2 separate regions of the Homo sapiens genome follow, and region 1 is linked to region 2. The links come from fine-mapping of genetic effects on gene expression. Tissue or cell type: whole blood. Region 2 holds a variant in brackets; the other region holds the start of a gene. Each region is shown on its reference strand, or each on the opposite one.

Region 1 (5,376 bases), not on the chromosome of region 2:
CTCCAACTCTAGTGAATTGCTCCTCTGGTGCTGAGACTTTCACCTGGAAGACCTTTTCGCCTGGAGAAGATGTGAATCTGTGATGAAAAGGCAATGGGGGAGATAAACAGATTTTAACGAACAAACACACAAAGGTTATGCTCTTCAGTCTGGAAACTTGATTATTCTCCTCCACATTCTTCCTCTAACATATGATTGCTTCTTCTTCTCTTATGCTTTTAGTACCAGAATGAATATGATGGATCAGAGATTTAAAAAAATGAGGATGACAATGGCCAAGATAACATGAAACAGTTTCATTAAACAGTCACAATGGAGTATGTTAAGACTATTAATCTATATAAGCACAGAACATACTCATGCATTCCATATGGAAAAATATTCTTACTAACTTATTTCATGCTATCACATCTGGATATTTGTGATCAAATGATGCTCCCAAAGATAATGATCTTATTTTGAAAAATCTCTGCCAATGAATCTTTACAATATCAGTATTATAAATCACGCTCAGGCCTGGCACTGTGGCCCATGCCTACTATCTCAACATCTTGGGAGGCCAAGGAGGGAAGACTGCTTGAGGCCAGGAGTTCGAGATCAGCCTGGGCAACAAGGTGAGATCCTGTCTCTACAAATAATAATAATAATAATAAAAAACAAATAGCCAGGCGAGGTGGCACACGCCTGTAGTCCCAACTACTAGGGAGGCTGAGGTGGGAGGATAGCTTCAGCCTGGGAGGTTGAGGGTACAGTGAGCTGTGATTGCACCACTGCACTCCAGACTAGGCTAGGAAGTGAAACCCTGTCTTAAAAAAAAAAAACTCACGCTCAGCCATGGGCAAAAGCAAAGTAGTAGGTAGTGTATCATCTTTTGCCAAATAACAAAATTTACAACCTGCCTTTTACTTGACAACCTTTTATTCCAGTATTTTTTTCTGTATGAAATACACACAGTCAGCATCCACCAATAATAGAGACAATCATTTCAGAAGTATAGGAATTATAAAAATAAGTTTTAAGTATGATGTTAAAGTATTAAATTCATTGGAACAAAATATTTGTTACAATCATATAGGAGATTAATACTTCGATACTTTCCTTCCGAACTCTGAAGTTTCAAATAGTACTTCATTTTTCTTTTTCAGTTTCAAAACATGCTTACCTGCAGATGTCTCCTTGAAAATTGAGGGCCGCACCAGAGAAAGATGAAGCCCATCAAGTCTCTAACAACTAGGTTTAAATCCCTTATAATAGCTTATGCGAAAAGTAGTTAGAAACAGTATTTCCAGCAAAGTGGAGGGACTTTGTCTTGCCCTGATAATGTGGGAATCTGAATCAAAATTGCTAGGAGATTATTTTATATGTTATATACAATACATTATATTGCATATATTATAATTCGGAACAATTTCTACAGCTACAGAGAAAAATGGGTAACCAAATATCCTGGAATATAAACTGCTGTGGAGAAACGAGTTCTTGGAAAGAAAAATCTTAAAGGGAGAAACAGATTTAACCGCCATCCAAAATAGGTAAGGAGCCGTTTCTCGACTTACTTATTCCCTGATGTATCCACTGCCTGAATATAGAAATAGCGGGCGGGAAGGACGACGTCTGCTTTTAGCCCGGGTCCCCATATTTCGCTCTTCTCCGGGCTCAGCTGCCTTTCTCCGCCGGTCTCGGCGAGTGCTGGAACTGTCGCCAGAAAGAAGCAATAAAGTAGCAAAGTGCCAAACATTTACAAGACGGACTCTCGAAATGATCCACCGATAAATGAAGAAGTGTAAGAGGTGGACAGAAGCAGCCGAGCCTTCGGCAGGGACCCGCCGGCCGATCGCAGCAGCCAACGCGACTGCAAAGGTTGCCGCCCGGCGTGCAGGGCAGGCGCGCGGGTCTCCGCGACCCCAGGACAATCAAAGCCCGTGCCCCGGCGCGCCCAGGTGAGGGTCCCCTGGCGTTCTGCTGTCCCGGCCGAGAACCGCGCTGCTCCTCTCTCTCAGGACAATGATGAACTTGAGTTGCTCCTGCCACTGGAGCATCATTTGGGAGCGAATCCGTCTCAGGTTCCAGCCAAGGTGTAGGGCGAGGGGATTGGCCCGTGCGTCGGGCCAGGCTCAGTAACGCCTTCTCCAAGTGGATGGCGGGGTGGACACGCGTCCCGGCGCCCCGGGCTCCCTGGGATATGTAGTTCGCGACAGGACGAGCGGAAATACTGCCAGGATTTTACCACCTCTCGCCCATTTATTTACTTCTCGGTCACCGCTTTCGGGGGACAGATAAACACCACAGATGCCCATCAAAGGGGCGCACGGGTCTGGAGGCGCAGCTCAGGTTTTTGCGTTGGTCACCCTGCCCTCCGCACGTGGAGAGGGCAGGCATAAAGCACCTTGAAAGGAAGGTGCTGTCAATGCTATCCGACGACCTGTCGCCGGGCACCGCAGCATCCTCGCTCGCTCCGATGGGACGAGGGACGCCGGCCCCAGGGTAACAGGAGGCGCCTCGCCGGCCGCGCGCTGGATGCTGTGATCCAGGTCCGGAGCCGGGTTCCGCCGCGGCCGCAGCGACCCGACCCCACCCGACAGGCCAGAGGTACCCCGGGGCGGGGGGCAGGGGCCGAGGTGGCGGCCGGCTGTGCGCTCTGAGCGCCTGGCCCTCCGCTGGGCACCTGGGCGCCGCCAGCCCGGCCTGCTGCCGCTCTACGCGCAGCCACCTGGGCATTCAAAATTTTTACTTAATTCGATACCGGCCTGGGCTGCCAGGGGTCATCGCCTCTCCGAGCCCCGTGGCGTCCAGATGGAGGCCACTGCATGGGTGCGCGCTCTCCCGGGAAGGAGTAGGGGGAAGAGCTGTGTCGCGGGGGGAAGAGAAGCGCCAGGGAAAGAAGGGCCTAGCCCTCTGGTGAACAAAGCTCGATTAGGAGGTGTCCATGTGGATACCGGTGACCCCTGTGCGGCCGTCGGTCTCCACGCCACGCTGGGCAGGGTCCGGGAACCAGCGCGCAGCGGCCGTCGCCTTCCCCTGCACGCCAGCACCCGGGTCTGGGCCGCCGCCAGGAGTCACGGGCTCACCGCCCTGGTCAGCTTGGCAGTCGGACCCGGAGCCGCCTCCTCTGCCTGCCTCCCTCTTGCCAGCTGCCCCGAAAACCCAGAAGAGCCGGTGGCTCCGAGCCAAGGCGGGCCTGGTTCGGCGCCAGGAAAGGGGGTTTCTTTCCTATTTTCTTTTGTGCAATTGTCATTATTAATGATACCGACTCGTTTACTCAAACAGTCGAATCGGAGCCCCAGCTCTTAGCCCGGATGCAGCAATTGCCCGTGGGCCCCCTTTAACACCAACAGCGTCCCCGGGGCCCGGGGCAAGCATGTTCGAGGCGGTCACCCCCGGGCCTCGGCGCGCTCCCCCTGGCGGAGAGCCTCGTCTTCCGGCCGGTGAGGGAAGGTAGAGGAGGGAGTAGGGGCGAGGAGGCCTCGGCGGCCCTTGGGCTCTGCGGGCTGGGGACTCGGGGTGCCCGCGACACGCGCGGAGGCGCGGGCTGGGTTGGCCACGGGCAGGGAGCGCAGCCGCGCTCCTTCCTCTCTGCCCGCGTCGCCTCCGCGCGCACTGGTTCTGCGCGGCGGGGCTTGGCCTGCGCGACTGTCTACTCCGTCCCGGCGGCCTCGGAGCCCGGCCGAGCGGCGAGCTTGTCAGAGGACGGTGGTGGAAACGCTCCCGGCCTCCCCAGGGGCGCGGGCTGGAGGCTGGCGCCAGGCGCGGAGGACTCCCGGTATCTTTTGACAGGCTGGCGCCTCGGCTCTGGGGACCCGCAGGTCTGAAGGGGAGGAAGGGGCCTGGAGGGCGCGGGAGGACACCGGGTGGGAAGGGTGGCATTAGCTCGGCCGGGGGCTATGCGCCTCTGGTTTCGCCCTCCCGCGCATATTCGACCCTTACGAGGTCACCGGAATGCCCCTGCTCCTCAGTTGCCTTCTATACAGGATATCGATCAGGGTATTTTGTTATACGAAAAGGCTTTACTGAAGAGGTTTTTAGAGATGTTTGGTTCTCTCATAAACTTGATACTTGAGAATACAGACAAAATATAACCTGAAAAGACTACAACCTAGGCGATGAAGATTGGCTTTACAAATGGACGTTTATTTTACAGAACACTTCGTTCAGTGACTTTGAACAATCATGACTCTGGCGGTGCTTTTTAAACTTGCCATTTTATAAATTTTTGCTTTGCATACGAGCAAACCATATTTCTATTGCTTATGACATGATTTTATGAGTAAGCTATTAGTTGAGCCTGAGGTCCTGCAGTCATTCTTAGTAGTAAATTTTTTTTTTTTTTTTTTTGAGACGGAGTTTTGCTCTGATCGCCCAGGCTGGAGTGCAATGGTGCAACTGTAACCTCCACCTCTGGTGTTCAGCGATTCTCCAGCCTTGCCTCCTGAGTAGCTGGGCCTACACGCATGCGCCACCATGCACGGCTAATTTTGTATTTTTTTATTTTTTATTTTTTTTTAGTAGAAACGGGTCTCACCATGTTGGCCAGGCTGGCCTCAAACTCCTGACCTCAGATGATCCACCCGCCTCAGCCTCCCAAAGTGCTGGGATTACAGGTGTGAGCCACCACGCCGGCTTAGTAAATCTTAATATAGCAACACCTCACTTGCCTGGAAGAGGGAACCGCAATCAATCAAAATGAGGGCCTACAGTAATGCCTGGCATGATGCAAACACTTAAAAATTATCTGTTGAATGAGACGTCTACAAATCCTAGGCCCTGGGGATACAATAATCTGGAAAACCAGACTTGCAGGATGCAGACGTTGATCATATGAACAGATATGCACAGAAGTAAGTGTAAAATTGCCACCTGGTAAGACCTGTGTGAGGAAGGTACTAGAGTCTGTACCGGGTCACCTGGCCTAGTTTGAGAAGCCAAGAAGGTTTCCCCCAGAAAGTGACATTTGAGCTGACATTGGAAAGATGAATGGGAATGAGCTAAGTAAGGGAGACAGTATTGGGAGAACCAAAAAGTAATGTGGAGCTTGGGGGGTGGGGGAAAGGAATGAGATGGAGCTAACCAGATAGATCTAGGGACCATCAGGAGTTGGCCTTTTGTTCTAAGAGCAGAGGCTTTCAGGCAGAGGAGTTCTGTGATCATATATATGTAGCAAACTTTATTTTCTAATATCTCTGCACAGGTCAGGTTAGAAGTGTCAACTCACTGGGAATAGTTTATAAATAGAGAAACAAAAGGAGATAAAAGATGAGTCAAAACAGTGACAGCTGCAGCCTATTAAGTGGAGGGACAAACTGCCTCTCTATAGCTCAGTATTGTCTATAATGATTCTGTTATTAGTATTATCAGTAATAAATTGTGCTTAGTGTACTT
Region 2 (5,376 bases):
CGAACTGATCCTTTCACTGAGATTCTTTTCCTTTGCTCCTCTGATCAAGTCAGCACACATCTTCTCCAGGGATTTTATGTTGCAGCTCGTTAGAGTGATTTGAATTCGGTGAATTGCCACCTCCAGCTCCATGGGTGTTTTTCCGGTGTCTTTAAAAGCCTTGGCTGCAGCGGGCTTCCTGACCGACTTGTTCCTTGGCGAGAGAGAACAGCGGTGAGTCAGGAGCAGGAGCGGGCAGGAGCGGGCGGACCGCAGCTCCGCACCACCTATGACTGTGTCTTCCTCAAAGAGCAAAACATTATATTTTTTTGTGTGTGATTATTTTATTTTTATTTTTTTAGGCTCATCAGCTATTGTTAGTGTTAGTGTATTTTATGTGTGACTCAAGACAGTTCTTCCAATGTGGCCCAGGGAAGCCAAAATTGGACACCCCGATCTATTAATAAGATTTCTTGAATTCTGATTTTTGAGGCAGCAAGTATAATTTGTCTCTAAAAGCTCCAAGTGTGTTTGTGCCAGCCAGGAAATGACTCACCTTTTGTTGTATTGTTCTAGAGTTCATACTGGCTAAAATTAGCCCAAGAAATATGTGGCATAGTTCCCAATGAGTTGGATAAAACAAAAGATAGTATATAAGGCTGTTTAGCTCAAGGCTTCATTCTTAAGGCTCTCTGATGGCAGCAGTTGAGGTCTCTCTGAGCCTGCAGCCTCAGAGAATTTTGAAAGTAACATCTAAAATGAGTAGGCTGAGTTAATGAAATGTGAGATCACCAGGTAGAGTTGTTTTGCTCAGATTGCTTAAATTACCCAATCTTTCTGTGGTGATTTTTGTCTAAAATAGCCTACTTAGTAGGCAGTGTTTGCTCAAAAATCTTATCTCAAAAAATGAGTTTAGTCTCCTGTTTTTCTGCTAAATTTTCCCTCTCCTGCAGTAAATAAGCTCTGTGCACTTGACTTGGAATTTTTCTCCATGTTAACTCACTCTTAGGGGCTATTATGTGTTAGAATCTGAGAATGCTTTACCAAAGAGCTCTTAAGAGGTCACCTGTTACTGGCTCTTTTTTTTTTTTTTTTTTTCCAGACAGGGACAGGGTCTCGCTCTGTCACCCAGGCATGAATACAGCTCATGCAGCCTCAGCCTCCTGGGGTCAAGTGATCCTGCCACCTCAGCCTCTCGAGTAGCTGGGAACACAGGCACACAGGCTGCATACCACCATGCCTGGCTAATTTTTTTTTTTTTTTTTTTTTTTGTAGAGATGTGGTCTTGCCATGTTTCCCAAACTGGTCTTGAACTCCTGGGCTTAGGTGAGCCTCTTGCCTCAGTTTCCCAAAGACTTAGGATCACGGGCATGAGCCATGACGCCTGGCTGTTACCAGTTCTGAACTAGAAGTGCAGTATGCAGATGGCTTTGGAAATGTTGAGGGGTTTTTGGGTAGTAAGCGACTGGGAGATAAATCATTGAAATTTAGTGACATTGGCACAGACACTAAACTTTCTGTAATGTGCAGGGAGGTCCTACACACTATAGAATTAGGTCACCCAAAATGCTGTCTGGCTCCTGTTGACAAATACTGAGAGCCCAACCCTTTGCTATTTCATAAGGGGAAATGAGGATTCAATTGAAGCTTGCCTTATACCACATAACTAATTAGGAGTGGAGCTAAGCTTGATAGAACCCAGCCTTTATGTTTCCTAGTTTACAGTGCCCTTTATGATATACATGGTGGGTAGAAAACCTTTCTGAAGACAACCACTATTTAAAAACATTTTTAAAAGCGTATGTGTGTATATATAATACTATTATTTCCACTGCAGTGCTAATTGGATAAAAGCTAAGACACCAAGGACTTTTTAAAGCCAGGTCTAGCTGAAATAGCAGCTGCCATTTTTAGTGAGTTTGAATATTTGTAGCACATAATAATGCATGAGTTAATTTGATCCAGTGCAAAGTATGTGACATATGTGCAAGTCATTCTTAAGACTCTCCTTAAAGAATCTGGGACAAAAAACAGAATTTTTCCCAAAGGAGATGGGAAAATTTGAATCTGTCCACATGAGGTTGCGGCCACATTGGGATTAACTGAATCTCATAAAAGGACCACCAAGGTGAACAACTTAGGGCTTTTAGGCCCTGTATGGCAGTATGTCACCCTCTTTCTAGACACACAGAAGTAGCCTTTGAATAATGTAAAACTAAATGTAAACCTAAAAAATGCCAACATTTGGTTGATGAAACCTGGAGAAGCTTTTCAATAAGAATTCATTAGAAGATGAACAGTTTTATTCAAACGAAGGCATTTAATGCTATAGTGAAAGGAACCTGTAGCCAGAAAACTTAGATTCAGGCTAGTTTTACACTTGAGATCTTAAGTTAACTTCTTCCTTTCATGGACCTTAGTTTCCTTATTTATTGCCCATATGTTATTAAAAATGAGAGAATGTTTGTGAATGTCATCAACTGTAAAATCCCTTATGTATACAAGGTATTCTTATTTTTCTAGGAAAAGCCAGCCAAAGTAAAAGTGGAATTGGCTTCTGGCGTCTCTTCCAAAGGCTCTGTGGTGAAAAGAAATCAGCAACCTGTCACCACTGAGCAAAATTCCTCTAAGGAAAATGCCTCCAAACTGACTCTGGAGAATTCGGAAGCTGTAAGCCAGCTCCTGAACGTAGCTCCTCCCAGAGAAGTAGGTGAGGAGAGTGAGTGGGAGGAAGTGATCATCTCCGATGCCCATGTTTTGGTTAAGGAAGCTCCCGGGAATTGTGGTACAGCAGTCACTAAGACGCCAGTCGTCAAAAGTGGTGTGCAGCCTGAGGTCACTCTGGGGACAACTGACAATGACAGTCCTGGAGCAGAC[G/T]TACCAACACCATCCGAGGGGACAAGTACCTCCAGTCCACTCCCTGCTCCTAAAAAACCTACAGGGTAAGTCAGTGTGTTTGTATAATATAGGGCTTTGGAAATGCCCCATGTTTCTTTTATCTCATGTCTGTACAGCATGCCTGAGAGAGGCAGCAGAGACCAGGCAATGGTTCCTGTTTTAGAGATACAGAAACCAAGGCCTAGAGATATATAAAGATTGTCCCTTCCCCCGGACTCTGCTATTCATGTACTGCTGTCAGATTACTTACACATCTCTTCTTGTCAGTCTCCCTAAAGCATTAATTAGAGTCTTGCTGGTATAGGCTCTGGGCAGTATTAAAACTATGAGTTACCAGTCCTGGATACTGGATTTGGAAAGAGAATCTTTATTAAAGCATCCTGTAGAAAGAGTTCTGGCCTTATAGTCAGAGAACTCAGTACTGGTTCTGACTGTTTCTGGCTTCTGTTTGACTTTGGGCATTGTCACTTCATGTCTCTTCACCTCAGTTCTCTCCTCTGAAGAATCTTGAGTTGGATATTAGAAAATCTTATCCTCACAGGCTGACTGTACAAACTGAAGATTGTATATAAAACATGCAACCAAGTACCTTGCAAGTCGGAGGAAGTCACTATCTTTTTCTCCCCTTTTCCTCCTTAAATGCTTAATTGGATTCTGTGTATATCCCTTCCCTGAGGAAGTTGTGTTCTTGTAACTGAAGACCCTTATTTGTATCAATGGTTCTCAACTGGTAACAATTGTGCCCGCAATGAACACCAGAAGCCAATTCCACTTTTAACTTTGGCTGGCTTTTCCTGGAAAAATAAGAATACCTTGTATACCTTGTATGCAAATATGTATGTGTGTGTGTGTATATATATTTTTCCCATTTTTTTTTTAACACAAATCATAGCACAACATACATACTTCTACATCTTGTTTTTTATTTTTATGTTTATTTTTATTGTTTGAGACAGGATCTCTCTTTGTCATTCAGTCTGGAGTGCAGTGGTGCGAACACAGCTCCCTGAAGCCTCATCCTCCCAGGCTCAATCGATCTTCCCACCTCAGCCTCTGGAGTAGCTGGGACTACAGGCACGCACTACCACACCTGGCTAATTTTTGTATTTTTTTTTTTGTAGAGATGGGGTTTTGCCATGTTGCCCAGACTGGTCTTGAACTCCTGGGCTCAGGTGATCCGCCCGCCTTGGCCTCCCAAATACATCTTGCTTTTTTTTGGGATGGAATCTCGCTCTGTCGCCCAGGCTGGAGTGGCGCCATCTCGTCTCACTGCAAGCTCCGCCTCCCGGGTCCATGCCATTCTCCTGCCTCAGCCTCCCGAGTAGCTGGGACTGCAGGCACCTGCCACCACGCCTGGCTAATTTTTTGTATTTTTAGTAGAGACGGAGTTTCACCGTGTTAGCCAGGATGGTCTTGATCTCCTGACCTTGTGATCCACCCGCCTTGGCCTCCCAAAGTGCTGGGATTACAGGCGTGAGCTACCGCGCCCGGCCCCATCTTGCTTTTTTTAAAAAAAATCATGTAGCAATATACTTTGGCGATGGTTTTGTATATTTAAAGGATGAAGCTGTGCACTTTAGACCTTTTGTTTGAGACACGTAAATCACTCTAGCAAATGTTTATTGAGGCCTCCTCTGTGGTATAGGCCATGTGCTCAACATTGGTGCTGCAAAGATGAAGCAAACATGGACTCTGTTCTCTAGGGTCTCTAAGCTGCTGTCATAAGTATATGCTCTAACTAGAGGTAGATTAGATGTTACAGCTATAATAGCGATTGGCATTACACGCTGTAGACATCGTTTTACACTTCTGTGTCTTCGCAATGACCCCATACTGTATAGGTAATTACTGTTCCATTTTACATATTAGAAACTTGAAGTTAACAGAAGAATGAAATTACTTGTCCAGGGCCACACAGCTATTTAGTGGTTGAATTTGAACTCAATCTGTCTAAAGCTTGACAGTTTAACCCCAATACTATCCTCTAAGAAAGCACTATGTAGAGATTGCGCTTTGGTTTTCTTCCCTTTGTTCCAGAATTTCCAGATTTCTCTTCTTATTCTTTTCAGAGCTGACCTGCTTACCCCTGGGTCCAGAGCTCCAGAGCTTAAAGGCAGAGCACGGGGCAAGCCCTCATTACTGGCTGCAGCAAGACCCATGAGAGCAATTTTGCCAGCCCCAGTTAACGTGGGGCGAGGCAGCAGCATGGGACTGCCCAGGGCCAGGCAGGCCTTTTCCCTGAGTGGTAAGGGCTGGGACATACCTGGGATGGAGGGGCTGTCTGACAGGAAAGGGACAGGAGTGGGGGGTTGAGAACGGACATAGAGACTTGGGGAGACTCTGAATGCACTTAAGTCACCAGTTTGGCTCCTGGTTCTCTCAGATAAGACTCCCTCTGTGAGGACTTGTGGTCTGAAGCCAAGCACACTGAAGCAGCTGGGCCAGCCCATTCAACAGCCATCTGGCCCTGGTGAGGTGAAGGTAAGGCCCATTTTCCAG

What was found. PIP is the estimated chance that this variant, and not a neighbour inherited with it, causes the effect.
Region 1: it holds the start of POGLUT2, and the variant in region 2 is the best candidate, but not a certain one, in a credible set for the expression of POGLUT2 in whole blood (TOPMed, PIP 0.51).

The regions. Positions count from the first base shown.
Region 1 is chr13:102,796,933-102,802,308 of GRCh38, forward strand. It overlaps POGLUT2 (protein O-glucosyltransferase 2), which reads right to left and starts at 2,044. Exons shown (of 10, transcript NM_024089.3): 1 at 1,557-2,044; 2 at 1-77. The coding sequence starts at 1,738. BIVM (basic, immunoglobulin-like variable motif containing) reads left to right here and starts at 2,187. Exons shown (of 11, transcript NM_017693.4): 1 at 2,187-2,589. RefSeq lists an enhancer at 2,194-2,413 and silencers at 2,474-2,743, 3,304-3,353, 3,384-3,813.
Region 2 is chr5:150,021,760-150,027,135 of GRCh38, forward strand. HMGXB3 (HMG-box containing 3) reads left to right here. Exons shown (of 20, transcript NM_014983.3): 7 at 2,503-2,921; 8 at 4,947-5,122; 9 at 5,261-5,358. It also overlaps the pseudogene RPS20P4. Among named protein-coding and RNA genes, the nearest start is that of HMGXB3, 24 kb to the left of the region's middle. The variant G/T (reference allele first, on the strand shown) is at 2,857.